2 separate regions of the Homo sapiens genome follow, and region 2 is linked to region 1. The links come from fine-mapping of genetic effects on gene expression. A gene starts in region 1. The other region holds a variant in brackets. All regions are shown on one strand. Distances are from middle to middle.

What was found.
Region 2: its variant is fine-mapped to the expression of CD164 in fibroblasts (GTEx, PIP above 0.99).

Annotation. Positions count from the first base shown.
Region 1 is chr6:109,376,333-109,391,480 of GRCh38, forward strand. CD164 (CD164 molecule) reads right to left here and starts at 6,135. Exons shown (of 6, transcript NM_006016.6): 1 at 5,872-6,135; 2 at 3,247-3,330; 3 at 1,568-1,639. The coding sequence starts at 6,046. It overlaps PPIL6 (peptidylprolyl isomerase like 6), which reads right to left. Exons shown (of 8, transcript NM_173672.5): 8 at 13,883-15,148. RefSeq lists a silencer at 5,593-5,872 and enhancers at 6,028-6,537, 6,093-6,442, 6,523-6,752.
Region 2 is chr6:109,234,874-109,250,021 of GRCh38, forward strand. It overlaps the pseudogene CCDC162P. Among named protein-coding and RNA genes, the nearest start is that of CD164, 140 kb to the right of the region's middle. RefSeq lists an enhancer at 6,715-7,914. The variant T/C (reference allele first, on the strand shown) is at 6,513.

The DNA of each region.
Region 1 (15,148 bases):
AAAGACATTTCCTAGTCTCCAGTGCTTCCAGGCCATCACGCATAACCTCTAGGAAGCATCCTTAAAGTAAGATACAAGCCTCTTTCATTCCCTTCTTCATCCTGCTGGCAGGAAAATAATCAATGTGATGGCTGGAACATAAGGACCCACCTTGGACAGTAGGGTCAAAGCCATTTTTGAGAGGTGAAAGAGTAAAAACCTAAAGAAGCCTCAGTCCCTAATGGTTGCAGAGCTGAACTCTAGTCCAGACTTCCTTTACATGAGAGAAAAGTAAATCAGTCCACTGCTTAAGCCATTGTAATTTGGGGGTTTATGTCCTTCATAGCTGAAACTAATTCTAACTGGTACATCATCAAATATGCAGCAGTACAAATACAGTTTTCCTTTAAATCAGTTTTCAAAAACGTTCTAATACTAATGAAATCTTCATTAATCTTGTCTCTAAGCAATATTACAAAACCACAGGTCTGACAGTTATTAGTTTATCTAACACATATTAAAGTAATTACTTAAAATGTTTCAGCCAGGTCCAGTAGCTCAAGCATGTAATTCCAGCACTCTGGGAAGCCAAAGTGGGAAGACTGCTTAAGCCCAGGAGTTCAAGACCAGCCTGGGCAACATAGTGAGACACCATCTCTACAAAAAAATTTTTAAATTAGCCAGCTATGGTGGCATGCACCTGTAATCCCAGCTTCTGGGGAGGCTGAGGCAGAAGGATTGCTTAAGCCCAGGAATATGAGGTGGCAATGAGTTATGATTGTGCCACTGCACTCCAGCCTGGGCAACAAAGAGACTGTCTCAAAAAAAGTTTGTTCGTGTACCACCTAACTATATTATGCACCCTGTGTGAAGTAAAACTGATCTAATACTAATGAAATGTTCAGTTACAAAATTCACATTGGGATGGGGCAACCCCTACCAAAATTAAAGAGTCAAAGGTAGTCTTTCAAGGTTAGACACACTGCACAAAAATCTTTTTCCTATTCAATTATTATCTATGCATCAAATTAGGAATATGCCTTTCCCACTGATTTACAATCTCATTGGAAAAATCAGCAGCTTCAAGTAGAATTTTAACGTTTTGCTGGACGAATAGTAAAGGTTAAAAATTAATCAAGTTACTCAGATTAAAATACAGAAAATGGATGGGTATAGAAAAGCTCATTTAACCACAGCACCAACTATGCTGCAGAATAAATTTATCAATCAACAATCCCCAGTATCGCAACACCAAAAGTGCCAGAATGAGGTTTCCCAGACCTGCAAGATGCAAACATAGCGGCTAAACTGTGATGAATTCCTAGAAAAGTTTAAAAAAAAAAAAAAAAGTGTGGGGGCAGACAACGCATCCACACTTACAGCATCCACACTATAGCTAAATCACTAAACCAAGCTTCAAATATCATCCTTTAATCAATCAATATGAATATACTATTCATATTCCAATTCTAACAAGATGAGAATTATGGCAATGCTTCAAACAAAGCACTGAAACAAGGCTTTCTGAGGCAATGATCTTCCTCACCTCTCTGCGGTCAGCTTCCAAGCAGCCAATATGAATACTTACCGGAACAGAAGTCTGTCGTGTTCCCCACTTGACAATCACTAACTGTTGAGTTATGTGAACAATAGCTCTCATCTGTTGGGGGGCAGGGGAAAAGAGACAAACAGCATCAACCACCCATTTGTATTATCTTTGACTCTGCTACTAAGCTCTATGAAATCAAACCCAAACACTTTAGAAGTGGGCAGGGGGAACCACTTTAGGTGTTTTGACCTAAAGTTAAACCCACAGACCAAACCCTGTCATTCTCCTTTTCCCACTGACTTAGAGATTACGCAGGATCCTTCTAACTTTTATCCATTAAAAATCCACATTAATATACTGAAAAAATAAATCTGCAACACTTAGATCTCAGAATTGTGGGAAGACTACTGTACAATCAAGAAAGGCAGCCATCATCTAAAAAGTGGGCAGGTGGCTCACGCCTATAATCTCAGCACTTTGGGAGGCCAGGGTGGGAAGATCACCTGAGGTCAGGAGTTCGAGATCAGCCTGACCAATATGGTGAGACCCTGCCTCTACCAAAAATACAGAACTCTGTCTCAGGGAAAAAAAAAAAGGCGGAGACAGTAAGTTGAAGTGGTCAGGGTCTGTATTAAGAGGTTAGTAAACAGATGAGGCACCCCATAACACTGTAGAAACTCTATTCCAAATCTCACTGCTTTAGTCTTCTATACTTTCTAAAACAACTTTCCTGGATAGGTAGACTTGGAACAAGAGTAAGGGGAGAACCTTTCCCAACAAATCTTAAAGTAGAGCATTCCATCTCCAAAATTCACCAACTCTTACATACTCCCATATAAAGGGGAAAGAGTACGCCCTTAAATCCCATTTTATGACCTAAAAAAAAGAGACACTTCTATAACAAAAAAGTTAATTTGGCCCAATTTAGTTAATACCTTAAAGAGCTTTTTGAAATTTATGTAGTGATATAATTTCTAGAACTATTAAAATTTTTACCAAATAAAAAAACTTATGGTTTGTTTTTACTTAAAAAAAAAACCGCCAAAACAACTAGATTGTTTTACTGATAAGTGCAACCACTTTACATTAAAAAACAATTAAAATAATGTATGCAGTAATATGGTTCTAATAAGAATCTTATTGAATTTCAATGTACGTCCCTTTAGCGCTCTACCTCTTGTATTAACAAAAGCACAGGAAGTCAACTCTCCCTACCTCTTTCTTCTCTACACCTAAGCATCCAACAGTTTCATAAGGTCTCTTTATATTTCATGTTGCAGGACACAGTTTTCAACACAACCTTCACTCACAGCTAATTCCAGTGTATTAAAGTACTCTCAATCCTTAGAACAGGCTTTAAAAAAAGCCAGGTGAGGAAGCACGCATCTGTAGTCTTGGCTACTAGGGAGGCCAAGGTTGGAGGATTGCTTGAGCCTAGGATTTCAAGACCAACCTGGGTAACACAGGAGACTCCATCTCATAAAAAACAAACGACTGAGCTTTAATTATCAAGTCTTAAGGAATCTAAAGGGAGGATGGGAGACAAAAAGAGATTTTCAGGGGGAGTGCGAGGCAACTGGCACTTTAAAGGAGTACTGGATTTGCAAAATAAATAGTGCACAATATCCTAAATGTCCTACATAACTTTCAAGTGTTCAAGAATTACTGTATTTTAAAATGCTATAACAAAACAGTTTTGCATCCCCAAAGTTTCTTACCTTTACATTCTATCCAAAAGCAGGTAGTATTAACAACGCTAACATTAAAACAGGAAACGCAGCTGTTTCGACCTTCACAGGTTTCTGGGGAGTTGGGGGGAGAGATGCATGAAATCAATGATTTTATTAGTATCTTATTTGAATCTGTATTACTTATCTTTTTGAACAATAAGCATTACATACAGCATCAAAATTACTAATTCAGATAAATGATAAAACTTTATACTGGTTTACTAAGAAATTCCAATCATTACAAAGCTGTAAGTAAACGCATTAGAAAAACAAGCTAGTGGTCACTCTCAGTACAGTGCCTGATGGTATCTGTCTAACCAATCCTTTTTCACAGGACAACTATTGGAAGACACCCACAGCCACTAAGGATTTAGGCATTTCAAAGCATCCTTAATACATAAAAATATCGAGAAAAAGGCTTTGATATAATACCAACACTACACATAGGAAAACCACTACCCCCAAACATCAGATAAAACCCTGAGATTTTTAGTAGTAACAGTAGTAGTTTAACAGGTTGAACCCAAGCACTGATGATGCCCATTCTGCTGCAAACAAAGATAATTTCCCAGGGATTCTCGATTCATAAATGATCCACTCTCGACAGGATCCTCCACAACTGGAGACAACATCTAAAAGCCCATATTCAAGTGCATACAATTCAGGTTAACAAGGTATTTGTCAATAGTTCATCCTAGGCCAAACAATCCAGAAACAAGTACTCATCACCATAATTCAATTTCTGGAGAAGAACGGACTATAAAATTGGGCTCTATTTTCCAGTGAGAAAAAGCAGCAAAATAAAAGAAAAAAAAGAATTGGGCTCCATTCATTTTCCTAGAAACTAGATGCCTCCAAACATTCTCGTTTGCTTTGCTCCTGCCTAAAAAATAGTTCTGCAGAGGCACTGCTTTCAATACTTCATCATTAGTACTTATTAAAGACTGGGACATGTACGGTGGGGTGGGGAAGGGTTCATAAAGTAAAAATAAATTTTCTGAAGTTTGTATAGATAAAACATGCTGTTTAAAAACCTTTGTGCTTGACGGGTGTAGCAAAGTGAAATGTCTGAAATGTTCTTTACAATGAACTAAACTTGCTACCTTTCAGACCACACTACATCCACTTATGATTTCCAGAAAATACATACCTCCTTTGCACGCACTTCAATTACACAAAGACAAATTAATTTGATACTTCCAACCTTCTCTTACACACACACTACAATTCTGAAAGGAAACTGTCAAATTAAGACTGAGACAAACATATTCTGCTCTATCATCTTAAAATAGTGCGGTTAGAATTCCCAGTATTATACTGCAATTTACTTCCCTCGTTTTGAAATGTTACCATTACATCTTCCTTAAACTAAAAACAAAACATTAAGTTTACTATATACTTTATTAAACTTTTATAAAATACTAAAACTAGAGGAGAATTTGTAGAATATGAATGCCGTGATAAAAATCATTACACTTCGGCATTCTTCGGTCAAGAAGCCAATGTTAACTACGTAAACATTACTCCTTAACTAATGTTAACTAGAATAACCAATCATACGAGACTGCAGGTTTTAAACCTCTAGTGTTTCTCCCGCTTATTACCTCAAACTTATCTTCCTTCTCTCTTTTGTGTTGTCACGGTATATGGCAATTTCTGCTTTAAAATGTATGTATGCCTTAACCAGCCCTATGCGACTGCACATAACAAAAGACACGCTCCTGATCGGGTTTTAGAAAACCCACAGACCTGGGCACAAACCCCCGTTCCACGACCTACTAAACATACGCTATCTGAGCACAGGACATAGTTAAGAAAATTTTAAAAACAATTGAAAAAAGAATAAACATACAATGTCAGGAGAGTTTACTCATCTCCGTCTCTGCATCTACCTCCTAGGTTTCACTACCTACCTTCCAGTTTAGCCTTAGGATACGTACGCAAAACACCCGGTACATACATGGGTACTTTTCTTCCTTTTCGCATACTTTGAAGTGTGAAGTTTTCACTAACTACGTGCTCAAACGTCAGCTACATTCTATTCCTATCTGCAAAACCAATGTAATTAAATCTCAAGCGACCTTCTCAGACTCAAGTCTGAGACACGAACGAGCATTACCGTCTTTAAGTTTCTCTTTCCCGGACTTCCGGAGAAGGCTACCTCCGGAGAGAGGCGCCGGGAGGGTGAACAACCAGTGGCAGGGAGAGGCAGCTCGGCCCCACCGCCAACCTCAGAGGCGCGACGCCCGGCCCCATCCTCAACCCCACCGCTGCCCCCGCGGAAGGAAGCCACGTCCCCATTTCCGACCCCAAGTGAGGCTAGGAATTACGATGCACTTTTAAAAGGCACCTCGACTTGCAACACTTCGAGGGGGGCCCCAGCCCCGCAGCCACTGGGAACCGCGCGTCCGCTTCCCCCCAGCGCGCTCCCCACCCGGCCCGGCCACGAGTGGACTCCAGGCTGGCCGCCATGTTGCCGGAGTCGCCGCCGCACCCCGAGCGCGGCCCGCCCGCCCGACCGTGGCCCGAACCCGGGCCCCGCCCGCACGGCGAGGAGGCAGTGCGGCTCGGCTGGGCAGGGGAGGGCGGGAAGCCCACAGGGCCCGCGCCCACCTGGTGCCGGAGTGGTGACCAGCGGGAGGGACGTCACCGGCGCCGAGGTTACGTTGGAGATGGGCGCTAAAGTCGTCACGTTCGGGTGCTGGGTCGTGTTCTTGTCCGCGGACAGCACGCAGAGCACGCCCAGGCAGGTGGCGGCCCAAAGCAGTGAGCGGGAGAGCCGCGACATCGTGTCCTCAGCGCTGGCGTTCGGGAGAAAGCTAAGGCTCGCAACGCTCAGTCAACCCCTCAATCCCCTGCGGCGCCGCCTCCGAGACTACGCTCCCCCGCGGGAGCGCGCAGGGGTCACGTGAGAGGCCCCTGTTTTCGGCGTGCGGGGGCGAAGAGGAGGGAGGTGGGGCTCGGACGATACCAACGGGAATCCTACGGGGGGAAGCAGGGGAGTCGGGAGGAAGCCGAAGGAACCTGGCCCTCAAAGCGACTGTGCCACAGCCAAGAAAACTGGGAGCTTCTGCAAATCGTTCTTCTTGCCCTCAGATTACCAGACACGACGCAGCTGGACTTGTCTCATGCCTGCGATAGGGACGGCCCCCACCCTGACTTGCATGGAACAGTCGACATAATGTGGCCTACTGCTTCCACCTGAGCGCCCCGCCAGGCTGTAATTCCGCGGGCCCACGTGACCTCCGGGGCCGCGCCTTCCGGACGCAACTCCACTGGGGCGGAAGTTGGTTTTGTGCGGCTCTCAAGAACTAAGTTTGTGCTGTGCTGCGGGATCCCCAGGGAGCTTCCTTATATCTTCGGCAGGACCCCTTCTTTTTTTCTTGAAGATTGATTTTGCTAGAAGTTATCCTGTGATGGGACTCCCTAGGGGAATGGAGGCACCACGTGGTTAAGGAGTTTGTGCGTTGCCGCCCACATAGTGTGGGCAGCTGAGGCGCCGCCCGGATCAGAGCCGCAGGGCGTCTACTCTGTCACTTTCCCAACCTGACTTTTCCGGATTGCTATTTCAGACGGCGGTTGCAGCAGCCGACCTGTCTCAACTCCACCACTGTAGTCAGAGAATCAAAAGCGGTCTGAGTTGCGAGGTCATTGGGGAGGCCCCCACCCCCACATTACCAGTGAGGAAACTGAGACTTAAAAAAGTGACCTGACCTGGACACGGGATTGCCTGACATCAGAGCTGGATTCTTAAGTTCCTGTTAGTGTTAAGGCGCTGCTCAGACTTTTAGTAAAGGTGAGCGCCATCTACTGCCAAGTCTCACAAAATATTCGCAAAATTTGATACGGTTATCACATGGTAAAAATTAGACTTTAAAAGTTGTATTTAATGCTGTGTTTTCAGCTGTTGTACACTTATGTAATTTTAATTATGCAAAGTTATCCTAATAATATAGGAATATTAATTGCTTTCGTGAGGTCTGTCTTGATGTGCCACGATGACTTTTTTGATGTGCCAAAAAAGATGACTACATAGTGCTTTTACCTTTTTGCTCAAATAGAAAGATTTTATTTCCCCTTGGGATCTTTTCAGTGTCGTCCTTCTGTACCCTCAGGACTATGAACATTTGTTCCAATGACTACGCTAGTTGGAGTAGTGTTGCTTGGATGTAAACAAAAAGCTGATAGTTTTGACTGATCCAGCCCAGAAGCATGAGAATGCTGTCAGGGAAGTGAGCTCCCACCATAAGCCCTTCAGAGAAGTGTCTGCTCTTCTCTCAGGAGGCCTCTCTCTATATTTAACACTTGACTATCTGGCACCCAGACCAAATGAAAGCGCAAGGCAACTTTAATTTTTTTTTAAGGTTAAGAATGTAAATAGGGGCCGGACGCGGTGGCTCACGCCTGTAATGCCAGCACTTTGGGAGGCCAAGGCGGGTGGATCACCTGAGGTCCGGAGTTTGAGACCAGCTTGGCCAACATGGTGTAAACCCCGTCTCTCCTAAAAATACAAAAATTAGCCGGGCATGGTGGCACGTGCCTGTAATCCCAGCTACTAGCAGGGCTGAGGCAGGAGGATCGCTTGTATCCGGGAGGCGGAGGTTGCAGTGAGCCGAGATCACACCACTGCACTCCAGCTTGGGGAACAGAGCCAGACTCGTCTCAAAAAAAAAAAAAAAAAAAAAAATGTAAATAGAAGCTCTGTTCTCAGAGCTTGGTGTGTTATCTTCTTTCCACCCTAGGATAAACACACTCCTCTGTGCAGACCATTGTTTAACAATTTGTCACCTGGATGTTTAACTCTAGTCCTCAGATATTCCTCAGTCCTGATAAAGGGACATTTCACGCTCTTGTTTTAAGACTAGAAAACCATTGGTTTATTTTATTTTGCATGGCAACTGTAGAGGTAGATCAAGGGAGTTCCAAAGTCATTTTCACCATTTCAGAGAGACAGCTTTTTTTTTTTCAGTTCCTGACAGTAAGCTTCTGTTTATTGTTGTCATAGAGCAGGGTTTCTCAATCTTGGCGCTATCAAGATTTCAGGCTGACTCATTCTTGCTTGTCCTGTGCATTGTTGGATATTCGGCAGTATTCGTAGCCTCTACACACTAGATACCAGAAGCACCCCACCTCTCAGTTGTGACAACCAAAAATATCTCCCGATATTGTTAAATGTCTCCTGGGGGTAAAATCACAATTGAAAGGCACCCTCAGAGCGTTCTTCTGTGTGCAAGGTCAGCCATCACTCAGGTTATTTCCTCTTAGACACATTGCTTGCAATTAGATTGTCGATTGGTTGTTAGAGCGACCTTCTTAACCATTTATTTTCTTGAAAGCAGCAAGACAGAGTGCTTCTGCGCTTGTGAATCTTCTAGCAGTATAAGCTCCCTCTAAGTTTTTTAAACAGCAGATTTTTAAACAATGCTTCAGCCTTGTGTCAGTACCTTTCCCCAAATAAACAGATCAACACTCCAAACAGGACCCTGCCTTCTAGCTATAACTAACATCCAGTGGCCCCTTAATAATCAGAGGTTTGCCTCCACTACTTGATAGCAAGAAGTACAAACCCCCTTGTACTAGCTTATGTTAAAGGGAATCCATTCACTGTAAGAATATGACAGTAAATCTTATAGGCATTCAGGGGTGGGAAATCAAGTGTGTGAGGGCCAAGGGAGACTTGAACTTAAAAGGAGGAATCCCTAGCACGTGGAGCTGGTTTGCTAGGACTTCGTTTCAGGCTTCAACCCTACAGGACATTGCCAGATCTATAGACCCACAGCCAATCATCTCCATTGCCCAGTATTCCAGTTATATAGCTCTTGGAAGAGATAACTTGACTGAGTACCATGCCTTCCCAACCTGTCTGTTACCTACTCTCTGCTCTGACTCCATCCATGCAGTCTACACTAGAGCTCCCTGAACTTCCAGTTCTCCTAACTGGTCATGTTTTCTTTTGCATGTGGATCTTCATCCATGCTATTTCTTCTGCCTAGAACATTCTTATTCCCTTCTGGCATCTGACCAACTCCTACTTGTTTGAGGTCTCTCAGCTAAGCTGTCACTCCCATCTTAAGCTATCCTTAAAATATTCAACTACCCCTTTCTCCCCACTCCCAGACTACAAAAGGTGTTCCTGCTCTGTGCACCCTGGACTTGCCCATAACAAAGCATATACTGCATTATATAGCAGTTGTCTTTCTCACTAGATTAACTCAGAAATAGTGCTCACCAGTTTATTCCCTGCACTTAATTAAAAAAAAATGAATAAATGAACAAACTGGCTTATTTCAGTCAGTTGTCCACCCTTGCCAAAAATTAGCTGCATTAAAAAGCACAGGAGGAGCCCGGCGTAGTGGCAAGCACCTGTAATCACAGCTACTTGGGAGGTTGAGGCAGAAGAATCTATTGAACCCAGGAGGCAGAGGTTGCAGTGAGCCGAGATTGCATCACTGCCCTCCAGCCTGGGCAACAGAGTGAGACTCTGCCTCAAAAAAAAAAAAAATAAATAAATAAAATAAATAAAATAAAAGCGTAGGAGGGCAGCTGCTACAAATAACTCCCTGAACTCTTCAGCTGTGGGTCAGGGTAGATTCATCTAGAGGAGTATGGGTGGGAAACAAGGGCTGGCATCTGTAAGACAGTTTTAACAGCATATATTAAAGCTCATTTAGTAGTATTTGAATCTGTTTTGACAAAGAGAAGGATTGGAATAAATCAAATATTAGCTAAAACTGTATATTCAGAGTCTTAATATTGTGATTAAGATTAAGGGTAAAATTCTGGAGATATTGTCATTAGGAGGCTCTCCACTTTGACTGTGGATGTTTCTTTGAAAAGTGTGCCAGGGCGCCAGAGGGGAGCATTACACTTTAGAGCAGTTGTTCTTAACCCTGGCTGCACATTGGAACTACCTAGTGACATCAGTGGTGGTGGTGTGTGTTGAAAAATATTGATACTAGTGCCTGGGTACTGATTTAATTGGTCTGGAGTAATGTCTGAGCATCAGCAGTTTTAAAAGCTTCCCAGGTGTTTCTAATCTGCAGCTTAGGTGGAAAACCAGTGCTTTACTCTTGCTTTCCAGAGTGTGGTTCTCAAACCATTATCATTTATATCACCTAGAAATGCAGAACCTCAGGCCTCCCCCTCAGATCTCCTGAATCAGAACCTACATTTTAACAAGATTCCCAGAAGATATGTACATGTGTAAAGTATTAAAGTTGGAGAACAGCCGGATGCAGTGGCTCACGCCTGTAATTCCAGCACTTTGGGAGGCTGAGGCGGCAGATCACCTGAGGTCAGGAGTTCGAGACCAGCCTGGCCAACATGGCGAAACCCCATCTCTGCCAAAAATACAAAAATTAGCCAGGTGTGGTGGCGGGTGCCTGTAATCCCAGCTACTTGGGAGGCTGAGGCAGGAGAATTGCTTGAACCCAGGAGGTGGGGGTTGCAGTGAGCCAAGATCGTGCCATTGCACTCCAGCCTGGGCGACAGAGTGAGACTCCATCTCATAAAAAAAAAAAAAAAAAAAAAAAAAAAAAAAAGTTGGAGAACACTGCTTTACACTATGACTTGCACAGAACTATTCTATCCTGAACTGCTGCAATTTTTTTTCTTTTTTGAGAAAAAAATGAATAAATAAACTGGCTTATTTCAGTCAAACTGGCGCAATCTCGGCTCACTGCAACCTCCGCCTCCCCAGGCTCAAGTGATCCTCCCACCTCAGTTTCCTGAATAGCCGGGTGCGCCACCACACCTGGCTAATTTTTTGTATTTTTGCTTGAGACGGAGTTTCACCATGTTGCTCAGGCTGGTCTAGAACTCCTGAGCTCAAGCAATCTTCCCCCCTTGGCCTCCCAAAGTGCTGGGATTACAAGCATGAGCCACCATGCCAGGCCTGCAATTCTTAACAGTGATTCATTTACAAAATTACATCAAGATATACTGTTTTTGCTTCTTTCTTTACAAACATATGTAAGGTTAGCATACAAACAGCACAAACCTCCTGGATGTGCAGGAGTCAGGGAGCCCAGCCCAGGTTCCCTTAAGGCTGGCACCCGAGATGCATGATTTTTATTTGTATTCTGCTTCAAACCCTGGGTCTGCTAGAGCTCTTTGCATTACGTCTCTTGGTCCTTCAGGAAATGAAACCTTTTCCTGACTTGTTCCTTAGGAATAACCTCCAAGTTCAAGCTAAACTACACCTCAGGCGGCTTGCTGATATCTTGGATTAGCTATGGCTTCCCCTTGTCCCTAGGTATTCACTGTGCTTCTCCCGATCCTGTCTTGGAGAGCTGATTTTCAGCCAGAAGACACCTCATGGCCACTCTGGTTATTAAAATATTCTAGTAATTCTGTACTGACTGGCAAAGTGCGTGTCCTGAGCGGCCCAAGTGTCCAAGTCCCTTCCTAAGGATCTGACTACCACGTTGCCACTGTCCAGCACCTGGAGGTCTCACATCTGGCCCTGCTAAGAACCTCAGGACCTTGCAACAGAATTCTGGTCACTGTCTAATTGGTCAACGTATGTGTACCTCCTCTGCTGCCTTGATGAAATCAAGGTTTCTTGTCAGTTTCCTTCATTCTTCCTTTTCTGTTGTAGGTTACACTTTACTGTTATGACTTTTCTCTTCTACATACCTGTGTGCCACAGATCTATGAGAGATCTAATATATCCCATCTGTTCTTAAAGTGTTGTCTCCAGAACAGCAGCAGCAGCAGCATCACCTTGAACTTGTTCAAATTCTCCAGCCCAACCCAGTGCCACTGAATCAGAAACTCTGAGGTCCAGCAATCTGTTTGACAGGCCCAGGCACTCTGATGCATGCTAAAGTAAAAGAACCTGTGATTTATCACCTTACAAAGCCCTCTATCAAATATGCAACTTGTAATTCATGTTGTATACATTACTACTGAGTTAGTCACCAATATTTCGTATGATATACAAAAGTCTTAAGACTTGCCAGATTTAAGTGGTGGTGATTCCACTTTGGGAAGTGTAGGGGATGGTAAGATCAATATAGTTTAAAAAATGAGTCTCCATAAGGGAGAATATTGCTAGGTGTGGTAGAGACCAATTTTAATTTTAAAGATATACCTTTGAACTAGTTCAGTTGATTGAAAGTTAATCTGATGTGAGAACTGCTAATACTCAGTATAAAAAGAGCTTGATATTTCTTGAAATTAGGATGATGATATTCTGTCAGTGGTAGCTTGACTGGTTTCCGTGGGGAGACATTTCTGAAGGGAAACTAATTCTTAAGGAATATCTGCTGTGTGCCAAGCATTATTAGAAGCACTGTGCTGTGCTTCTCATAATTCACCTGCTGTGAATAGATTCACCTGCTGTGTCAATCCTCAGAACACTGAGACAGATGTACCCCCATTTCACTTAAAATTGTTGATTTTATGCGTTTCCTCAGAATAATCACTGAAGTTTTAGAGCCAGAAGAAAGCTAGCAACTCAACTTCTGTTATTTTTACAAATGGGGACAGTGAAAGGTTAAGTGATTTGACCATCACATTGCTGGACAGGTGGTTCTCAAACAAATAATGCTTCATTTAAAATATGTATAAAAACTCAGGGTCTGGAATCCTGAGGTTGCCAGATTATCCATTCCTTAACAAATAACTGGCACTGTTTGCAGTAGGGGCAAACAAATTCCTTGGATAGAATTTTAAATATTTACCTCAAATCTCCCCATATAAGAAAAATGTTTAGATATGCCCTCCCTTATTCACACGGCCTAGTATAAGATAAAGCGTATGTACTTGACTTTGCCATATCAGCAATTAGGGCAAGTTTAGACATATAACTTAGCATTTTGTGTAAATCATCAGAAGGCCTTTATTGTCCTATTTGTAGATGTGGAAAAATCTAGAATCCCTTCTGTTTAATTAGTGTATTTCAGTTTGGTTAAATCAAAGTCTTACATGTGGAGTTCATTGGAGTAAACTTTTGAGTCCTTCTAACAATCAGTTTCTTCAACTATGAGGTTAAACATACAAATCATTCTAGCACAGAAGTATCAGTGTGTATACTTTTAAGTGCTGGTGATAAGAACCACTGCATGGATCTGTGGTTGAGGTTTCCACAGCCCAGAAGTGGAAAGTTAGAGTGAACAAAGGGACCATGAACTCGCCATCCTTGAGAAGACTGGCAGAGTTCTACCTTTCTATTGCTGCTGACAAAGGGAGCTGGAATCAGTTTCTTACACCCACACAAATATCCCAGTTCTTTCACAACATCAGATAAAATGCCTAATGCCATTAATATATAGGTTCATCACCAGTAAGAACTGCCCTGCTGTTTGTTATTACATGAGTAACGCTTGTCATGTGTTTTAACCGGGCTCCTTGCAAAGAATCAGTTTTCATTCACCAATTGTTTTGAATCCTGGTGGCAAGCCCAGCTCCCTTTTGTCTGAGATGTCCCCAGTGTGACCTGAGGAACCTGGGCAAAGGCCCAGCGAGAGGGTCTGGAAGCTCTAGACAAATCACCCGAGTTCTCAGACTGCCCAGAAGTCTGTGAGTACAGGAAGAGGGAGACTCTCCTCAGGGATTCCCAAATCTGGCTATCAAAGTCATTGGAGAGCTTTCAAAAAGTCCAAGCTCTGAGGCTACACCCTGAAGGTTACACATTAGTAATTTATTATTAAATTTATCGAGTGCTTACAGCAGACCAGGTCTCTTATAGGTTCTTTATAGAAATTATTGATTCATGGAACCCTCACAGCAATCTTATGTGGTAGGTACCACTGTTTCTCAGATGAAGGAATTGAGGCACAGAAAAGTTCTTGCCTGAGTTTGTGCAGCTAGGGAATGGCAGAGCCAGGATTCTGGCCCTAGAACACACATTCTTAACACTATGTTGCTCTGGGTCAGTTGAGAATGTAACATAGGCGGTCTGCTTCCTCCCATCCACCTCAGGTCTTAGCATAAAGCATATGTCATATAGCAATAAAGCTGTCATTAAAAGGAAAAGCAAATGCCAGTTGTCAGGAGTTAGGGATGGCAGAGGGCAGGGGAGTGGGTTGACTGTAAAGGGGTACTGGAAGGGGGTCTTTGAGGTGCTGGAAAGGTTCTATATTTTCTCTATAGTGTTGGTTACATGAATATACTCATGATAAAATGGCATCACACACATTGTACCAATGTCAGCTGCCTGGTTTGATATTGTACTACCGTTTTGTAAGCGTAGCCACTGGGGAAAATGGGTGAAAGGTACACAGGACTGCTCTGTACTATTTTTGCAACTTCCTGTGAATCTATATTTCAAAATAAAAAGTTAAAAAAGCCTACGCCTACTTTTGGCAAGCCTCATATCCATTAGAAGCCTGCCTCTTTAAGACTGATGTAAATAGAGATTGTTCTTGGAAGACAAACCTCATTCTGCTTAGGGTAAGAAAAGCACTCTCAGCCGGGTGCGGTGGCTCACGCCTTTGTAATCTCAGCACTTTGGGAGGCCGAGGCGGGCGGATCACGAGGTCACAAGATCGGGACCATCCTGGCTAACATGGTGAAATCCCATCTCTACTAAAAATACAAAAAATTAGCCAGGCGTGGTGGCAGGCGCCTGTAGTCCCAGCTACTCGGGAGGCTGAGGCAGGAGAATGGCATGAATCAGGGAGGCAGAGCTTGCAGTGAGCCGAGATTGTGCCACTGCACTCCAGCCTGGGCGACAGAGTGAGATTCCGTCTCAAAAAAAAAAAAAAAAAAAAAAAAAAAAAGAAAAGCACTCTTAGTCTGGGCAGAGCAGGGGCACAGGGTAGTGGTGGTAACAGGAGCTGAGCAAGGTCACCAATAGCAGAGTCAAGCACTCTGCTGACTACATTACACCATGGGGACTGGAACCAGTTCCTTATGTCTTGCAGTGATTCCCAGATGACTAGTG
Region 2 (15,148 bases), 140 kb before region 1:
TGATAGTTGCACAACAACATGAATGTACTTAATGTCACTAAATTGTACATGAAAAAATAAGATGGTAAATTTTATGTTATGTGTATTTTACAATAATAAGAATAGATAGATAGATCTATAGATAGGAAAGAGAGAGAGAGGAGAGAGAGAGAGAGAGAGAGAGATGATAGATATCTAGGCCAGTGTTTTTTAACCTCCTTTCCATTATGGCTTCCCCAACAAATAACCTTTTTCAACTTTTTTTTTTCCCCTACTCTCCCCCTACAAAGAAATATTAACACCAGAGATATGCCATAGATTTGCTTATGTGCAATGTGTGTATCTGTGCTTCATATATAAAAAGAATAAGATTTTTTTTGTCCTCCAAGAACCACTTTCCACCTGGGCATTATCCCCCCATATAGAATGTATGTATTAGGCTGTGGTGACATGAGATCAGAATCTATGAAGGCAAAACACAGGATTTTTGATGGGCATATGTTAAAAGCACAGGCATATGTTAAAAGCATATGTTAAAAGTAGAGATTACAAATCATAGACTCAAAGAAACCTATATGCGCAAATATAAAAACCATTCATACATTCTTTTATTTAACAGATATTTTCTAAGCACCTACTATGTGTTAGGCCCTGTGCTAGGCAATGAGAATAAAATGATGAACAAAAATAGACATGTTCCTTACCCTTACAGTACTTTGTAATCCAGTGGGTGAGATAAATATTGGTCAAAAATCACACAAATGAATGTAAAACAGGGACATCAAGTTCCTCAAAAGAGAGACTGAGAGCTCCTTGGTACTATAGGGAGGCTGGGGCAGGAGGGTTTTAAGGAAGTGACGATTGAGCTGAGGTTGGAAAATGAAAAGTCTTTAATTAGGTAAAAAGGAGAGGGAGACCTTTCCACAGAGTGGGGACAGCCTGTGCAAAGGACCTGTGGCCAGAGGGATCATGGCACCTATAAGAAACCAAAAGACAGGAGTGGTTGGGGCACAGACACGAGGTGGAAGGTGATGCACAATGGAACTTAGCTCTGAGTTTCTCAGCCTTGGCACGATTGATTTTTGGGGCCTGATAATTCTTTGCTGTGAGAAGCTCTCCTGTCCATTACAGGATATTTAACAGCATCCCTGGCCTCTACCCAGATGCCAGCAGTACCTCCCACTAAGTCATGACAACCAGAAGTATCTCCAGACATGGCCAAATGTCCTCTGGAGGGCAAAATCACTCTCAGCTGAAAAACACTGGACTAGAGGGATAGGCATGGGCCAGATTGTATGGCCCTGTTAAGGAGTTTTGCTTTATTCTGTGGCCCATGGGAAGCCTCTTAGGGATAGAAAAGGGGGAAGGGGGAATGACACAATCAGAATTGCATTTGTAAAAGTTCCCCAGCCAGCAGTGAGTAAAATGGAGAGGAGGGAAAGCCCAGGCCAGAGGAGTCATGGATAGACCATTTAAGAGGCTAGGCCAGTTTAGAAGCTCCTAGACTAGTCCTCATGAAATATAATAGCTTGGACTAGGGTAGTGGGTAGTGGAGATGGGAAGAAGTGAAACGGGAGAGTTCCCTGATTTCCCCTCGTAGAATGTGTGACAGGGATGTGGCTCGCCTGTTTCATGGCCCTGCCGCTCAAACCCCAAGGAGGAGCATGCAGACAGGCAGGTGCAGAGGCCAGGGCAAGTGCTTTGTGCTCTCAGCGCCACTTAGTGTCTAGCGGTGGGTGCCTGCAACCCGTGTTACAAAGCCCTTTCAGCTTTGCTGTCTGCAGATGGCTTGAGTGCTAATCAGCTCAATGGACCCTCTGCCTTATCACAAGGGCAGACGGCCAGTGCGACAGCCTTCTGTATCCCGAGCTCTTGCCCAGTGTCCCGGAAGAATCGGATCACACGCAGGCTTGAAGGATGAATGCAAGGTTTTATTGAGTGGTGGAGGTGGCTCTCAGTGAGATGGATGGGAAGCTAGAGGTGGAGGGGTGGGGGAGATAATCTTCTGAAGTTCAGCTGTTTTCGGCAGAACTCCTCTGGACGTTCAGAGGCCTCTTCCCTCCTTCTCTGTTGTGCTGCTCTGCTTTCTGCCTCTCTCTGCTGCTCTGTTCCTCTGTTCCTCTCAACATTCAGCTTCTTGCGTGTGTGCCCGCTAAGGTCTCAGGTTTATATGGGCACAGGATGGTGGGCCAGAGTGGTCTTGGAAAATGCAACATTCGGGCACAAAAGCAGGAGTACCTGTTCTCCCTTAGGTCTGAGGGCATAGGCCCAAGGGTGGAACCCTCACCCTTCTCTACTCAGCACTTCCCTGACCCACCTCCTATATCAGAAGTGGATGTATTTGAGAGACAGGAAGTAAAACTAACAGAACTTGGTGATAGATTGGACAAGTAGGGCGAGGCAGAAAGAGATGTCGTGAATGATTCATGCTAGAGGAAGTGGATGGGTGGTGGTGCTATTTAGTAAAATCGGCTGGAGATAGCCTGGGTTTGCGGGGGAAGATTTAATGATTTGATCATTGTTAAAATTGAGGGGGCTTTGAGATGCCCAGGAGCAGTTGCCAAATAGGTAATTGGATGTGCGGGTCCGGAGCTCTAGGGGGTCTGGATTGGAGGCATAAACTGGGGAGCAAATGGTCTAAAGGTGGTAATCTCAGCTATGAAAATGTCTGCCACCTCCTAGGGAAGGAACAGAGGAGGAAAAGAGGAGGTCCTAGGAGGCGGCTTGAGAGTGGCCATCATTTAAGGACTTGGTAGAGAAAAATAAATACACTTCACAGTGTCAGACAGAATGACCGGAAACTAGGCAAAATCAGGGAGAACGTGGAGTCCCAGATGCCCGGAGAAGAGAGTGAGTCAAGAATCAGGAAGCACTAAATTATATCAGATGCTCCTGAGAGATTACGTAAGATGATGAAAGAAAGTTTGTTGCATGTAGAGCAGTGGTCATTGTTGGTCTTAGTGAGGGTGGTTTGGGTGGCTCGATGGAGCCAAGGGCCAGATGGGAATGGGTTGAAGAGTGGGAGGTGAAGAAATAGAAATGGAGATTGTAGATAACATCTTGGGAGATTGGACAGTGAGGGGGAGGAGAGCCACACAGTGGAACCTGGGGAAGGGTGTGAGGAAGTTTCACAATGAGAGGGACGTGTGCACATTTCAGTGTCAAGAGTCCAGCGGAGAGGAGTGGGATATCCATGAAGGAGCAGGGATGCTGCTGAGGTGGGAGGCAGCGGCCCTAGAGAAGGGGGGCAACACTGTCCTCCACTGTGCGGAGGAAGGAGGAGGGGAGAGATGTGAGCCCTGGGGAGGCGGCGGAGAGTGGCGCGCAGAGGAGCTCCTCCTGGGAGTAAGAGGAGACTACGCCTGGGAGGGAGGGATTCCGAGGCTTGAGGAGAGTGGAGGTTGGAAATTGTGAAAATTATTATTAAAATAACGATTCTCAGGAAGCAGCAGATACTCAGTTTTCTAAGAAAAATAACATTATGATTGAAATACTTCTTACTTGTATTCGATTCCTAGGATTATCAAAACAAAGTACCACAAACTGTGTCTCACAATGACAGAAATTTATTCTCTCACAGTCTGGAGCCACAAATCCAAAATCCAGGTGTCAGCAGGACCGTGCTTTCTCTGAAGGTTCTAGAGGTGATAGTTCCTTGCCTCTTTCAGCTCCTGGTAGTTGCTGGCAACCCTTGGCAATCCTTGGCATTCCTTGACTCACCCTAGTCTCTACCTCTGTCTTCACATGACCTTCTCCCTTACGTGTCTGTCTCCAAATTTCGTAAGGATCACAGTCATTGAATTAGGCCCACTCTCATCCAGTATGACTTCATCTTAACTTGATTACATCTGCAAAGACCTATTTTCAAATAAGTTCTCATTCACAGGTTCCAGGTAGACATGAATTTTGGGGGACACTATTCAACTTAGTACATTAGTAAGCCATGAAACTGTGCTAACACATTTTAGAAGTACTTATAGAATTACAAGAAAAATAGTTTTAACCTAACATTTAAGGATTCCAAGTGCCTTACACTCATAGAGTCACATACTCCTGGCAGCTAACATAGTCTATAGTGTCTCCACAGTCCCCATGTTACAGATGAGGAAACGGAGGCTGGGAATAGCTGAATGACCTGCCCAGGATGAGATCCTGGCAGAGCCAGAGCCTGAACCCAGGCATTCTGACTCCAGAGACCACTCTAGGCTCTATTTCCTACCTTTCTCCAGTTGCTACTGAATTTGTCAGAAAAACAAACTAATCAGCTAGTTATCCACCTCAGGAACTACCTCTTCCTGCCAATATTCTTTGTTAATATGTTTTCTGCATACAGCTTTTTATACATTCAGAATATTTACAGCTTCATACTGGCAGCCCACTGTGTGGGAGCAGAAGCCTGCTGCTTGTCCATGTGGGATGGCAAAATATAGCTCTCCTTTTTCCAGTAACATCTGGGCTTGGCTTTCTTTCTCCAGGTCCACAGCGTCCAATTCATGGAGTTCTCGGAAGTGGAGAACCAGGATGACTACTACAGCACAGAAGCTGGCTGCATCCACACCCAGGACCAGCAAGGGGTGCATGTCATGTATGAGGAAGCCTTGAGTGATCTCAAGGAACTAGAGGCAGAGTTGCTGCTTGTGGCTAGCCATTACATTGAGAAAGAAAGGGGTGAGAAGTCAGATTTAAAAAAAAAAAAAAATCAACTGCCTAAATAAACAAAAAACACTAAGGGCTCCTTTTTAATACTCTCCACCCCAAAATATAAACACATATCCAATAGTATGTGAAAACTCAATAAGCGCACACTTCCCCCACCCCTAAAATGCATTCACTTTAGGAGAGACACAGTTCTGTTTCCAGCTCAAGCCCTGCTTCTGATAGAGATGGTGACTACTCTTTCAGGGCCGGGTTGTAATTCTTGCTGTGATTCAGACTCTGTTTGTTGACCAGGGACATTTCTTTTCTTTCTTTTTTTTTTTTGTTGTTGCAGCAGGAAGTTTCCTTTATAAATGGAGAGTTGGATGATACACAGTTCTAGCGTAAGGCCTCAGTCACTGGGCCCCAGGAGACAGAAAGGAGCAGGGCTGAGAGGGACGACATGCTCCAGGGCTCATGTCACACTGATATGTGCGCCAGGAATGACCGCCCATGTACTCCTAAAGTTCAACCCACCCACCAGTTCAGTCAAGAATTATGCTTTTAATTCTTCATGTTTGGCCACTGAAGATCAAATCCACCATGATAACAGGATTTCAGTACAACAGGCTCTTTCCAGTTACGACAGACAAAGATGTCCAGGCTCTTGATAAGAAACAAAAGTTCCTTTGACTTCTCTTGCGAGGACCGAAGAGATAAATGTTTTCTTTGTGATCTGTTGAAATGTTTATATAGACTTGAAAAAACAACTAACAGTCATTCTGTGCTCTGGTTCCCTGGAAGGTTTCTCATGATCTCCCCTTCAATAGCTAGAGGGCTTGTGTGTCAGGGAACAAAGAATTAAGACACTTTAAGCGATAAAAATCCTAGTGCAACACTCAGAGGCAGATCGTGGGCTTGAGGGGGCCGGAGGGGTGCGAGGCAGGTGCTTTGACTGAGGAGCAGGTGCTGCCTTCTGGGAAAGCCTAGTGGAGACAGAAGCAGGAGCAGGAAGCCCTGCCAGGGAAGGCCCAGTTTCTTCCTTGCTCTCCTGAGGTACAAGGGACAGCACGGCCCCTGCATTTTCATTTCTCAGGGCCAAAGACCTGACCTCTGACCCTCTACCCACTCTGGTGACCTGCACGCTAAATTGGGTGGTTTCTGACTAAAACAGGCTTAAGCCAAGAATTGGGATTTTACTCCCAGGGGCATTTCTGCGTCACCCACTGGGTGCAGGGGATGTGGTGCAGGACCCTGAAGGAAGGAAAGTAAGCAAGTGAAACAAATGACTTTTCTAAGTGGTAGACCTTGAGGAAACTGCATTTAGCAGCAGAGACAGCCCTGAGTTCCTAACAGGAAACCACTAGGATGCAAGAACATCTGGCTAGGAAAATGCCAGACAAGCCCCAGAGGAAGAAATCATTACTCAGGGTAATCAAGTAACCCATAACCTGTATTTTCTCTTCCTTTTGGCATCACTCAAATCGATCCAATTTTAGAAATGAATGAGGTAAGAATATTCTTTTGGGATACTATGACAGCATTGGAATTACACTTGCAAAGAGCTTAGAATTTCTAGACACATTGCAATACCTAAAGGGAAACTTAATCAGGGTTTGTGCTATTTTGTAATATGTGTAGACTGTAATTAAAGATAATTCACATTCATATTGTTATAAAATGCTGCTCAAAGAAAGTTTGACAACTAACTTTTCAGATCCTAGACAGAATTAATTTGATATAGGATTGAACTCTTTGTCCTGTCTTTGCCATTGGTATCTGAATCATAGGACGCAATGATGGCATCCAACATTCCAGGGTATTTAATTTCAGCCCTTAGCTTTTATCTTTACTGGTTATCCTACAAACCAATGCACCATTTGGTCCATATTAATTTA[T/C]AATAGCATGCAACTATTTCTAGCTGCTAAGAATTTAACTGGACTGAGACACTTAGTCAGTAGTCATTTAACCACATGGGCATTTTTCAATTGAGCTGGTAAATGTATAGTCATCTATTGTGAAATGATTTCCCAACTGTTGCTACGGAAGTTCTTGATCATCTTTCTCTTGCTTAGTACCCATTAGATATGTGATAATTATTGAGCTTAAATTTCAGCACATGAAAGTATCTTATCTTTGAATATTTAATTCTGAAATACAATAGTTAAAAATTTAAAGCAATAATAATACCAGTAGTGAAAAGTAACGTGAACAAAGTTAAAAAAAATCAGCTGAATAATGAAAATTAACTTCATTGATTTAAGTTAGTAATTAACATAATTAAGGAATATCTTGGAAACGTTTCTGAAAATTTTCGACTTGGTTCACAATGATGGAAATAGCAAGTCAAACTAAGTTTGTTGTTAAACCCCCAGGGGTTTGTTTTTAGAGAAGGAGAAATGTATACTTTGCCTTTAAATTGTGGGTTTAAGGACATTTTAGCATAGATTTCTTGTTAACTAAATTTTGACTCTATTTCTAAGATTAGTCTTTGAAACTGAATTTTAAAAATAAAAACAAAAGCTCCTGTCGACTTAGAAGTCAACAAGTATGAAGTCAGGCTTTGTCCCAGGGACTGGTTCAGTATTTCTGTTTCTGAGATGGAGCTGATAATCCAAGGGGCACATTTCTAATTGGAACAGGTTCCTTGGAAGCCCTGTCTCTAAACATTCTCACCCTCTTTTCTCCCAGGTCACAAAGTGGGCAGCCAGCCAAAGAGTGGCCAGGAGTGGGGATGGGCCCATGCAGATGTGGACAGATTTGCTGTGCTGTATGACACGTGGACTTGGGAAGCAGCTCTTCTGGAAAACAAGCGCCAGGTATTCTTGCCTAGGAGACAAAATGTCTGCTAAAAAAACATTCTTACAAAATCCAGTCTTTTTTCTGTTTTTTGTTTGTTTTTGTAAAACCCAGTTAGACTTTTAGAAAAGCTCTCAACCAAGAGAATAATTATTTTATTTAAATAATCTCAGCTAATTATAAGGATGTAATACATTTTATTTTCTTTACTGAGGTTCATCACAAAAAACAAAATGTGAAAGATACTTCTTTATCTTACAGGTATTATTTGTTAGAGGGCTACGTAATTCCTTCTTATAATATGTATGTTTTTAGTGAGAATGAATGATGATTTCATTCATGCTCATTGTGCAGTCACAGGGACAATGCTCACTTTGCTAATTACAGACAAATTGACCTGATCATGGCCTTTAGAAGCGTATGCCACATGTGGGTAGGTGAAAGCAATTGGACAGGGTGCTGAGTGCAATGTTATGAGGGTGAGTTTAAAGCAATGAAACAGCAAGTTACTAAATCATCACTGTATCACGAATGGTTCATATCCCAATAATGAATGAAACACTGCAGGTTTACTGTTCTTCATTTGTGCCCTTAGCATGGATTATGAGCCCTTCTAATAATCACCAATTGTTAGGCATTTACTTACCAAATATGAAGTATTTACTCCGCCAGGGACTGTTCCAGGCATTCAGGGACCTATAGATAACTAAGTGAAAATGATCTTTATCTTTAAGGAATTTATCATCTATAAAAGTTGATTCAATCTCCAAGCAAAAATTATAATCTAGTTACTAACAGCTTATAATTGAATACATTCATGAGTCATGGGGACTCTGCAGAGAGAGAGATTTGTCCTGGGGGAGGGGAGCACTGTCCGATGGAAGAAATGCTAGAAAGCCTTTCCAGAGGAATAGATATTTAATCTTGATACTAAAACATGAGTAAGATATTGTCTGGCAGGGAAGAAAAGATTCTTAAGCAGACGAAATGGCATTAGAATGTCAGGGCAATGTAAATGGGAAGGACCAGCTTGGGGGATTTTATTTTGAGAAATAAAATCTTACCTTCTTGGAGGATGGTAGGAAGACTGTTATGGCTGGGATGTAAAGGCATGATGGATGGCAACAAGCCACACATGTGTTTTGGGTGCAGCCTGTAAAAGACCTACTAGTTATATTATTTTAGAGTTTGTCTTACAAACAAAGAAGAGCCATTAGTGAGTTTCCATAGAGAGAAATATGATCATAGCTGTGTTTTTAACAGCTATCTTGGGTGTAAGTGAGAGAATGGATTGGAATAGAGAGCCCCTGAGAAAAGAAGTGCAGTTGTTGCAACAGTGACCTGAAAAATTAGGAGGGGACATGCAATGACAATAGAAGAATAGAAAGGCAGAGAGGCGGTGAGAATAGGAAGGAGGAACAGACCTGAGAATACTTTGCAGAAGTGGAAATGGCAGGATTTGAAGACTGGATCTGGAAGTTGGGGCGAGAGAGTAAGGGTGGAATTTAAACAACTTCCTGAGGATTAGGGAGGAGGCTATTAACTGAAACTGAACCCAGGAAGAGGAAGAGTGTCTTTAGACAGGAAAATAACGTAGGCCCTAGGACAACAAGGCATTTGAGGGGGTTTGCTGAAACTCAGATGTGAATGTTTTGTGGGGAGCTACAGGTTTGAAGCTCAGGAACAGGTATGAGCTGAGGTATGAATGCAGAGGTTGAACCACAATGATGAATCAAAACAACTGGGAGAAGCTAGAGGTGTCTGAAATGAAGCCCTAAGTAATGTACCTACTTTTTTTTTTCTTTTTGAGATAGTATCTTGCTCTGTCACCTAGACTGGAGTGCAGTGGCACGATCTCAGCTCACTGCAACCTTTGCCTCCCAGGTTCAGGCGATTCTCATGCCTCAGCCTCCTGAGTAGCTGGGATTACAGGTGCCCGCCACCATGCCTGGCTAATGTTTTGTATTTTTAGTAGAGACAGGGTTTCACCATTTTGGCCAGGCTGGTCTCAAACTCCTGACCTCAAGTGATCCACCTGCCCTGGCCTCCCAAAATGCTGGGATTACAGGCATGAGCCACCACACCCGAACCCTGAGTAATATACCTACATTTAAGGGGCAGGTCATGAAACAAGAAGCAGTGAAACTAAATAGACCAGAGAAACAAGGAAGAAATAGTATTGTGGGAACCAACAGAAAAATAAGTTTTAATTAGGAGGGGGTGGTTACTTGTGGAGTTCTGTGAAACGTCAAGAAAGGAACTCCTAAAAACCAAGCAGCTTGGTCAGGTGGTCATTGGCAGCATTGCAGGACTCTTTCAGGGGCATGGTAGGGGTGGAAACCAGGTTATAGTGCACTATGATGTGGTCAGAAGATGGGGAAATGGCAGTGTTTTCTTTGAATTGTTTTTCTAGTAGAATAGATGCTTCACCATTTCATCTACTCTCTGGTTGGTCTGTTACTCCTAGAGATGTAGGTCACCCACCCTTTGGAAAACAATTGGCTGGGCTTAAATAGCGCAAGCCTTGGACTTTGAAAAAATGTTCCTCTTTTCAATGATAACTGGCTTCTACAGCCTTTGTCTGGAGGCTTAATCTGCCCATCAGAACCTTAACCAACTGAGTGAGAGATTTAGATGCACAGTGTAGTAATGGAATGGCTGTATGAAATATAAATAAGACAGGATCCTTAAACTCAACAAGTTTATCAGTCCAGGCGTGAATTTTTTTTTTTTTTTTTTTTTTTGAGACGGAGTCTCACGCTGTCGCCCAAGCTGGAGTTCAGTGGCACAATCTGGGCTCACTGCAAGCTCCGCCTCCCGGGCTCACGCCATTCTCCTGCCTTAGCCTCCCAAGTAGCTGGGACTACAGGCGCCTGCCACCATGCCCGGCTAATTTTTTTTTTATTTTTTTCTTTTCCTCAGTATAATTTTCTTTTTTTTTTATTATTATACTTTAAGTTTTAGGGTACATGTGCATATTGTGCAGGTTAGTTACATATGTATACATGTGCCATGCTGGTGCGCTGCACCCACTAACTCGTCATCTAGCATTAGGTATATCTCCCAATGCTATCCCTCCCCCCTCCCCCCACCCCACCACAGTCCCCAGAGTGTGATATTCCCCTTCCTGTGTCCATGTGATCTCATTGTTCAATTCCCACCTATGAGTGAGAATATGCGGTGTTTGGTTTTTTGTTCTTGTGATAGTTTTCTGAGAATGATGATTTCCAATTTCATCCATGCCCCTACAAAGGACATGAACTCATCATTTTTTATGCCTGCATAGTATTCCATGTTGTATATGTGCCACATTTTCTTAATCCAGTCTATCATTGTTGGACATTTGGCTTGGTTCCAAGTCTTTGCTATTGGGAATAATGCCGCAATAAACATACGTGTGCATGCGTCTTTATAGCAGCATGATTTATAGTCCTTTGGGTATATACCCAGTAATGGGATGGCTGGGTCAAATGGTATTTCTAGTTCTAGATCCCTGAGGAATTGCCACACCGACTTCCACAATGGTTGAACTAGTTTACCGTCCCACCAACAGTGTAAAAGTGTTCCTATTTCTCCACATCCTCTCCAGCACCTGTTGTTTCCTGACTTTTTAATGATTGCCATTCTAACTGGTGTGAGATGGTATCTCATTGTGGTTTTGATTTGCATTTCTCTGATGGCCAGTGATGATGAGCATTTTTTCATGTGTTTTTTGGCTGCATAAATGTCATCTTTTGAGAAGTGTCTGCTCATGTCCTTCGCCCACTTTTTGATGGGGTTGTTTGTTTTTTTCTTGTAAATTTGTTTGAGTTCATTGTAGATTCTGGATATTAGCCCTTTGTCAGATGAGTAGGTTGCGAAAATTTTCTCCCATTTTGTAGGTTGCCTGTTCACTCTGATGGTAGTTTCTTTTGCTGTGCAGAAGCTCTTTAGTTTCATTAGATCCCATTTGTCAATTTTGTCTTTTGTTGCCATTGCTTTTGGTGTTTTGGACATGAAGTCCTTGCCCATGCCTATGTCCTGAATGGTAATACCTAGGTTTTCTTCTAGGGTTTTTATGGTTTTAGGTCTAACGTTTAAGTCTTTAATCCATCTTGAATTGATTTTTGTATAAGGTGTAAGGAAGGGATCCAGTTTCAGCTTTCTACATATGGCTAGCCAGTTTTCCCAGCACCATTTATTAAATAGGGAATCCTTTCCCCATTGCTTGTTTTTCTCAGGTTTGTCAAAGATCAGATAGTTGTAGATATGTGGCGTTATTTCTGAGGGCTCTGTTCTGTTCCATTGATCTATATCTCTGTTTTGGTACCAGTACCATGCTGTTTTGGTTACTGTAGCCTTGTAGTATAGTTTGAAGTCAGGTAGTGTGATGCCTCCAGCTTTGTTCTTTTGGCTTAGGATTGCCTTGGCGATGCGGGCTCTTTTTTCGTTCCATATGAACTTTAAAGTAGTTTTTTCCAATTCTGTGAAGAAAGTCATTGGTAGCTTGATGGGGATGGCATTGAATCTGTAAATTACCTTGGGCAGTATGGCCATTTTCACGATATTGATTCTTCCTACCCATGAGCATGGAATGTTCTTCCATTTGTTTGTATCCTCTTTTATTTCCTTGAGCAGTGGTTTGTAGTTCTCCTTGAAGAGGTCCTTCACATCCCTTGTAAGTTGGATTCCTAGGTATTCTATTCTCTTTGAAGCAATTGTGAATGGGAGTTCACTCATGATTTGGGTCTCTGTTTGTCTGTTATTGGTGTATAAGAATGCTTGTGATTTTTGTACATTGATTTTGTATCCTGAGACTTTGCTGAAGTTGCTTATCAGCTTAAGGAGATTTTGGGCTGAGACAATGGGGTTTTCTAGATATACAATCATGTCGTCTGCAAACAGGGACAATTTGACTTCCTCTTTTCCTAATTGAATACCCTTTATTTCCTTCTCCTGCCTAATTGCCCTGGCCAGAACTTCCAACACTATGTTGAATAGGAGTGGTGAGAGAGGGCATCCCTGTCTTGTGCCAGTTTTCAAAGGGAATGCTTCCAGTTTTTGCCCATTCAGTATGATGTTGGCTGTGGGTTTGTCATAGATAGCTCTTATTATTTTGAAATATGTCCCATCAATACCTAATTTATTGAGAGTTTTTAGCATGAAGGGTTGTTGAATTTTGTCAAAGGCTTTTTCTGCATCTATTGAGATAATCATGTGGTTTTTGTCTTTGGCTCTGTTTATATGCTGGATTACATTTATTGATTTGCGTATATTGAACCAGCCTTGCATCCCAGGGATGAAGCCCACTTGATCATGGTGGATAAGGTTTTTGATGTGCTGCTGGATTCGTTTTGCCAGTATTTTATTGAGGATTTTTGCATCAATGTTCATCAAGGATATTGGTCTAAAATTCTCTTTTTTGGTTGTGTCTCTGCCCGGCTTTGGTATCAGAATGATGCTGGCCTCATAAAATGAGTTAGGGAGGATTCCCTCTTTTTCTATTGATTGGAATAGTTTCAGAAGGAATGGTACCAGTTCCTCCTTGTACCTCTGATAGAATTCGGCTGTGAATCCATCTGGTCCTGGACTCTTTTTGGTTGGTAAACTATTGATTATTGCCACAATTTCAGCTCCTGTTATTGGTCTGTTCAGAGATTCAACTTCTTCCTGGTTTAGTCTTGGGAGAGTGTATGTGTCGAGGAATTTATCCATTTCTTCTAGATTTTCTAGTTTATTTGCGTAGAGGTGTTTGTAGTATTCTCTGATGGTAGTTTGTATTTCTGTGGGATCGGTGGTGATATCCCCTTTATCATTTTTTATGGTGTCTATTTGATTCTTCTCTCTTTTTTTCTTTATTAGTTTTGCTAGCGGTCTATCAATTTTGTTGATCCTTTCAAAAAACCAGCTCCTGGATTCATTAATTTTTTGAAGGGTTTTTTTGTGTCTCTATTTCCTTCAGTTCTGCTCTGATTTTAGTTATTTCTTGCCTTCTGCTAGCTTTTGAATGTGTTTGCTCTTGCTTTTCTAGTTCTTTTAGTTGTGATGTTAGGGTGTCAATTTTGGATCTTTCCTGCTTTCTCTTGTGGGCATTTAGTGCTATAAATTTCCCTCTACACACTGCTTTGAATGCGTCCCAGAGATTCTGGTATGTTGTGTCTTTGTTCTCGTTGGTTTCAAAGAACATCTTTATTTCTGCCTTCATTTTGTTATGTATCCAGTAGTCATTCAGGAGCAGGTTGTTCAGTTTCCATGTAGTTGAGTGGTTTTGAGTGAGATTCTTAATCCTGAGTTCTAGTTTGATTGCACTGTGGTCTGAGAGATAGTTTGTTATAATCTCTGTTCTTTTACATTTGCTGAAGAGAGCTTTACTTCCAAGTATGTGGTCAATTTTGGAATAGGTGTGGTGTGGTGCTGAAAAAAATGTATATTCTGTTGATTTGGGGTGGAGAGTTCTGTAGATGTCTATTAGGTCCGCTTGGTGCAGAGCTGAGTTCAATTCCTGGGTATCCTTGTTGACTTTCTGTCTCGTTGATCTGTCTAATGTTGACAGTGGGGTATTAAAGTCTCCCATTATTAATGTGTGGGAGTCTAAGTCTCTTCGTAGGTCACTTAGGACTTGCTTTATGAATCTGGGTGCTCCTGTATTGGGTGCATATATATTTAGGATAGTTAGCTCTTCTTGTTGAATTGATCCCTTTACCATTATGTAATGGCCTTCTTTGTCTCTTTTGATCTTTGTTGGTTTAAAGTCTGTTTTATCAGAGACTAGGATTGCAACCCCTGCCTTTTTTTGTTTTCCATTTGCTTGGTGGATCTTCCTCCATCCTTTTATTTTGAGCCTATGTGTGTCTCTGCACGTTAGATGGGTTTCCTGAATACAGCACACTGATGGGTCTTGACTCTTTATCCAATTTACCAGTCTGTGTCTTTTAATTGGAGCATTTAGTCCATTTACATTTAAAGTTAATATTGTTATGTGTGAATTTGATCCTGTCATTATGATGTTAGCTGGTGATTTTGCTCGTTAGTTGATGCAGTTTCTTCCTAGTCTCGATGGTCTTTACATTTTGGCATGATTTTGCAGTGGCTGGTACCGGTTGTTCCTTTCCATGTTTAGTGCTTCCTTCAGGAGCTCTTTTAGGGCAGGCCTGGTGGTGACAAAATCTCTCAGCATTTGCTTGTCTGTAAAGTATTTTATTTCTCCTTCACTTATGAAGTTTAGTTTGGCTGGATATGAAATTCTGGGTTGAAAATTCTTTTCTTTAAGAATGTTGAATATTGGCCCCCACTCTCTTCTGGCTTGTAGGGTTTCTGCCGAGAGATCCGCTGTTAGTCTGATGGGCTTCCCTTTGAGGGTAACCCGACCTTTCTCTCTGGCTGCCCTTAACATTTTTTCCTTCATTTCAACTTTGGTGAATCTGACAATTATGTGTCTTGGAGTTGCTCTTCTCGAGGAGTATCTTTGTGGCGTTCTCTGTATTTCCTGAATCTGAACGTTGGCCTGCCTTGCTAGATTGGGGAAGTTCTCCTGGATAATATCCTGCAGAGTGTTTTCCAACTTGGTTCCATTCTCCCTGTCACTTTCAGGTACACCAATCAGACGTAGATTTGGTCTTTTCACATAGTCTCATATTTATTGGAGGCTTTGCTCATTTCTTTTTATTCTTTTTTCTCTAAACTTCCCTTCTTGCTTCATTTCATTCATTTCATCTTCCATTGCTGATACCCTTTCTTCCAGTTGATCGCATCGGCT